Regions from separate parts of the Homo sapiens genome. Here region 1 is linked to region 2. The links come from fine-mapping of genetic effects on gene expression. Tissue or cell type: whole blood. Region 2 holds a variant in brackets; the other region holds the start of a gene. All regions are shown on one strand. Distances are from middle to middle.

What was found. PIP is the estimated chance that this variant, and not a neighbour inherited with it, causes the effect.
Region 1: PLEKHM1 starts here. The variant in region 2 is fine-mapped to the expression of PLEKHM1 in whole blood (TOPMed, PIP 0.98).

What each region holds. Positions count from the first base shown.
Region 1 is chr17:45,489,259-45,491,937 of GRCh38, forward strand. PLEKHM1 (pleckstrin homology and RUN domain containing M1) reads right to left here and starts at 1,463. Exons shown (of 12, transcript NM_014798.3): 1 at 1,394-1,463. LOC105369225 (a long non-coding RNA gene) reads left to right here and starts at 1,614. Exons shown (of 5, transcript XR_002958152.2): 1 at 1,614-2,679.
Region 2 is chr17:46,025,466-46,028,118 of GRCh38, forward strand. MAPT (microtubule associated protein tau) reads left to right here. Exons shown (of 13, transcript NM_001377265.1): 13 at 1-2,653. Among named protein-coding and RNA genes, the nearest start is that of STH, 28 kb to the left of the region's middle. The variant G/A (reference allele first, on the strand shown) is at 1,516.

The sequences.
Region 1 (2,679 bases), 540 kb before region 2:
CGTTGCCTCTGGCACCCATCATATCCCCTGAATTCAGCATCAGGACTGATCTGCCATCAGCTCTGGCAGGGAGAGGCCCTTACAAGTGCCAAGAAAAGGAACACGAACAATATTCTGTGACCACAGCCAACACCACACAGAACTTCCCAGAAGCTCTCCAGGGCGAGAACACCAACCAGAAGGAAGTGACAGCTTCCATCATTCTGTGCTAAGTGAGCTGAGTGAGTGGCCGTCTCTCACCTTCCAGATATTTGAATGATACCTACCATTCCAGCAGCCAGCACAAGTCATTTAATATGAATGCCAAAAACACAATCCCTGAGGACAGGTGCAGGAGACCAGATGCCAGGAAAAACCCCGGCCCCACCCAAGAGTTGGGGAGAGCCCACTGCTCCTCCACCCTTATTTACCACCTGAGCCCCTGCACCCGCCAATCATGCTGCTCAGTCTGTAACTGCGGGTCTGAGTGAGCACCTACATTTGGCTGTTGAGGGGCAGCTGGTGGAGTTGGCAGGCGACTCTGCACTAAGTTCTCAGGTTGAATGGGAGTTGGGTCGAGGGAAGCAATGGACGCAGAGTTGGGGTGAAGAGTTGCGGTGGGTCAGCGGGGGTGAAAGGACATGGAGATGTCATTTTTAACAAGATTGGGTGAGGGTGGTAGGAAAGGAGGCAGCAAGAGTTCGGGACAGTTTGGCAAAGACTTAGGGATGGGCTGTCCTCAGTACGGCAGGAGACGCAAAGGAAGGTATACAGTGGCTAGGAGACTAAGGACGAGAAGACACAGTTAAGACTTGGAATAAGGCTGAGATCGGAGTTATCCAGAAGAAAGCGGTGAGCTCAACAGGGCACCTACTTTGGGGGTGGGTCTTAGATGAGAGGGCGGAGGTAGAATGTTTGGGATGAGCAGATCTTGGGGAGCTAGACGGGGGATGGGGGTGACTGGGATAAGAAAGCTGAGCCAGAAAAGGGGAAACCTGAATGGTGGGTCTCGGGGAGGTAAGCGCGGAGCATCGGGATTACCAGAGGGGTGGGGAGAGAGGATGAGGTGTGTCAGGGCGGGGCGAAGGGACGTGGCCGAGATCGGTGTTGGAACTGGGGTAAAGTGGGGTCACGAGTGAAGCTGCATTTAAGCAAGACCGCTGGTGAGGGGATGCGGGCGCGGGCTGGGGGCTGGACAGACGGAGGGGACGGGGCCACAGCGGCGGTGCAGGGGGAAGGCTGGGTCGGAGAGGAGCGGGCGCGGGCTGGACAGGGCTGAGGGCCCTGAAGCCGGGCAGTCTCAGGGTAACCAGGGGCTGGGAATCGCGGAGGGAGCGGGAGGCCCACCGCCCGTTCGCGCCTCGGCCCTCCCACCACTCCGCCGCCCTCCTCGCATCTTGACCCCCTAACTCACCAAGCGGAGCGAGGAGCGAGGCGAGGGGCGCTCCCGGCCGCGGCAGCCCCTCAGCCTCCGAGCCGACGATGCGGTCTCTCGGCCACTGACAACAGGAAGCGGCGCCCCGGCCCCTGACGCCATCACGTTGGCTCGGCGCTCCGGCCCTGCCCCGGCCCGCGGTGCCAATCGCGCAGCCCGAAGGAGCCTTGGGGCGGGGCCAGCTGCTCCCGGAAGTCCCTGGGAGCTGAGCCCCGGGGCAGATGCGAGGTCTGGGAGGCTGGGGAACTGGGGGCGCCTGCAGGGCGCAGAGAGGCGAAGGCACCGGTGTCAGGGAGAACGCATCCGTTACCGCCCGCCTCCCGCAGGTCTGCGTCAAACTAGATCCTGGCTTCTGGGTTCCTGACCTCGTTTGGCCTCAGAACCATCTGTGCAACATTGGGGCTGTCACTTCGCCTCCCTCAGCTGAAGAGTTCCCACTTGTGAGTGGGACTAATAACGCCTGCCCTATCTTTGCCTCTCCGAGGGCAGCAGTGCAGCCCGTGGGGCGGAGCCCGGGCCCAAATTGGAGCCTCCGCCTTGCGCTTTCAGGATAAACATAGCTGTTTTGACCACACTTTATCCCAAGGGAACGCCTTGAGGTCCCCTTGGGCACTCTCCCGTGTGTAACTCGCCCATTAGCACCGCCTGGCTTGAAGCTTAGGGGTCTGGTTATTCTCTTCTAGCCCGTGTAGAGGATTTCTTTCTTCCTTTCTGCTTTTTTTTTGAGACAGGGTCTCACTCTGTCGCCCAGACTGGAGTGCTGTGGCACGATCACGGCTCACCACAGCTTTGACCTCACGGACTAAGTGGTTCTCCCACCTCAGCCTCCAAGCAGCTGGGACTACAGGCGTGCACCACCACGCCCAGCTAATTTTTTCTTTTTTCTTTTTTTTTTTTTTTTTGCGACGGAGTCTGGCTCTGTCGCCCAGGCTGGAGTGCAATGGCGCGATCTCGGCTCACTGCAAGCTCCGCCTCCTGGATTGACGCCATTCTCCTGCCTCAGCCTCCCGAGTAGCTGGGACTACAGGAGCCCGCCACCACGCCCGGCTAATTTTTTTATGTTTTTAGTAGAGATGGGGTTTCACCGTGTTAGCCAGGATGGTCTCGATCTCCTGACCTGGTGATCCACCCGCCTCGGCCTCCCAAAGTGCTGGGATCACAGGCGTGAGCCACCGCGCCCGGCCAATCTTTTCATTTTTAAAAAAATTTGTTTATTTTGTAGAGACAGGGGTCTCACTGTGTTACCTAACCTGGTCTCCAACTCC
Region 2 (2,653 bases):
GGGTGAAATTAAGGGAAGGCAAAGTCCAGGCACAAGAGTGGGACCCCAGCCTCTCACTCTCAGTTCCACTCATCCAACTGGGACCCTCACCACGAATCTCATGATCTGATTCGGTTCCCTGTCTCCTCCTCCCGTCACAGATGTGAGCCAGGGCACTGCTCAGCTGTGACCCTAGGTGTTTCTGCCTTGTTGACATGGAGAGAGCCCTTTCCCCTGAGAAGGCCTGGCCCCTTCCTGTGCTGAGCCCACAGCAGCAGGCTGGGTGTCTTGGTTGTCAGTGGTGGCACCAGGATGGAAGGGCAAGGCACCCAGGGCAGGCCCACAGTCCCGCTGTCCCCCACTTGCACCCTAGCTTGTAGCTGCCAACCTCCCAGACAGCCCAGCCCGCTGCTCAGCTCCACATGCATAGTATCAGCCCTCCACACCCGACAAAGGGGAACACACCCCCTTGGAAATGGTTCTTTTCCCCCAGTCCCAGCTGGAAGCCATGCTGTCTGTTCTGCTGGAGCAGCTGAACATATACATAGATGTTGCCCTGCCCTCCCCATCTGCACCCTGTTGAGTTGTAGTTGGATTTGTCTGTTTATGCTTGGATTCACCAGAGTGACTATGATAGTGAAAAGAAAAAAAAAAAAAAAAAAGGACGCATGTATCTTGAAATGCTTGTAAAGAGGTTTCTAACCCACCCTCACGAGGTGTCTCTCACCCCCACACTGGGACTCGTGTGGCCTGTGTGGTGCCACCCTGCTGGGGCCTCCCAAGTTTTGAAAGGCTTTCCTCAGCACCTGGGACCCAACAGAGACCAGCTTCTAGCAGCTAAGGAGGCCGTTCAGCTGTGACGAAGGCCTGAAGCACAGGATTAGGACTGAAGCGATGATGTCCCCTTCCCTACTTCCCCTTGGGGCTCCCTGTGTCAGGGCACAGACTAGGTCTTGTGGCTGGTCTGGCTTGCGGCGCGAGGATGGTTCTCTCTGGTCATAGCCCGAAGTCTCATGGCAGTCCCAAAGGAGGCTTACAACTCCTGCATCACAAGAAAAAGGAAGCCACTGCCAGCTGGGGGGATCTGCAGCTCCCAGAAGCTCCGTGAGCCTCAGCCACCCCTCAGACTGGGTTCCTCTCCAAGCTCGCCCTCTGGAGGGGCAGCGCAGCCTCCCACCAAGGGCCCTGCGACCACAGCAGGGATTGGGATGAATTGCCTGTCCTGGATCTGCTCTAGAGGCCCAAGCTGCCTGCCTGAGGAAGGATGACTTGACAAGTCAGGAGACACTGTTCCCAAAGCCTTGACCAGAGCACCTCAGCCCGCTGACCTTGCACAAACTCCATCTGCTGCCATGAGAAAAGGGAAGCCGCCTTTGCAAAACATTGCTGCCTAAAGAAACTCAGCAGCCTCAGGCCCAATTCTGCCACTTCTGGTTTGGGTACAGTTAAAGGCAACCCTGAGGGACTTGGCAGTAGAAATCCAGGGCCTCCCCTGGGGCTGGCAGCTTCGTGTGCAGCTAGAGCTTTACCTGAAAG[G/A]AAGTCTCTGGGCCCAGAACTCTCCACCAAGAGCCTCCCTGCCGTTCGCTGAGTCCCAGCAATTCTCCTAAGTTGAAGGGATCTGAGAAGGAGAAGGAAATGTGGGGTAGATTTGGTGGTGGTTAGAGATATGCCCCCCTCATTACTGCCAACAGTTTCGGCTGCATTTCTTCACGCACCTCGGTTCCTCTTCCTGAAGTTCTTGTGCCCTGCTCTTCAGCACCATGGGCCTTCTTATACGGAAGGCTCTGGGATCTCCCCCTTGTGGGGCAGGCTCTTGGGGCCAGCCTAAGATCATGGTTTAGGGTGATCAGTGCTGGCAGATAAATTGAAAAGGCACGCTGGCTTGTGATCTTAAATGAGGACAATCCCCCCAGGGCTGGGCACTCCTCCCCTCCCCTCACTTCTCCCACCTGCAGAGCCAGTGTCCTTGGGTGGGCTAGATAGGATATACTGTATGCCGGCTCCTTCAAGCTGCTGACTCACTTTATCAATAGTTCCATTTAAATTGACTTCAGTGGTGAGACTGTATCCTGTTTGCTATTGCTTGTTGTGCTATGGGGGGAGGGGGGAGGAATGTGTAAGATAGTTAACATGGGCAAAGGGAGATCTTGGGGTGCAGCACTTAAACTGCCTCGTAACCCTTTTCATGATTTCAACCACATTTGCTAGAGGGAGGGAGCAGCCACGGAGTTAGAGGCCCTTGGGGTTTCTCTTTTCCACTGACAGGCTTTCCCAGGCAGCTGGCTAGTTCATTCCCTCCCCAGCCAGGTGCAGGCGTAGGAATATGGACATCTGGTTGCTTTGGCCTGCTGCCCTCTTTCAGGGGTCCTAAGCCCACAATCATGCCTCCCTAAGACCTTGGCATCCTTCCCTCTAAGCCGTTGGCACCTCTGTGCCACCTCTCACACTGGCTCCAGACACACAGCCTGTGCTTTTGGAGCTGAGATCACTCGCTTCACCCTCCTCATCTTTGTTCTCCAAGTAAAGCCACGAGGTCGGGGCGAGGGCAGAGGTGATCACCTGCGTGTCCCATCTACAGACCTGCAGCTTCATAAAACTTCTGATTTCTCTTCAGCTTTGAAAAGGGTTACCCTGGGCACTGGCCTAGAGCCTCACCTCCTAATAGACTTAGCCC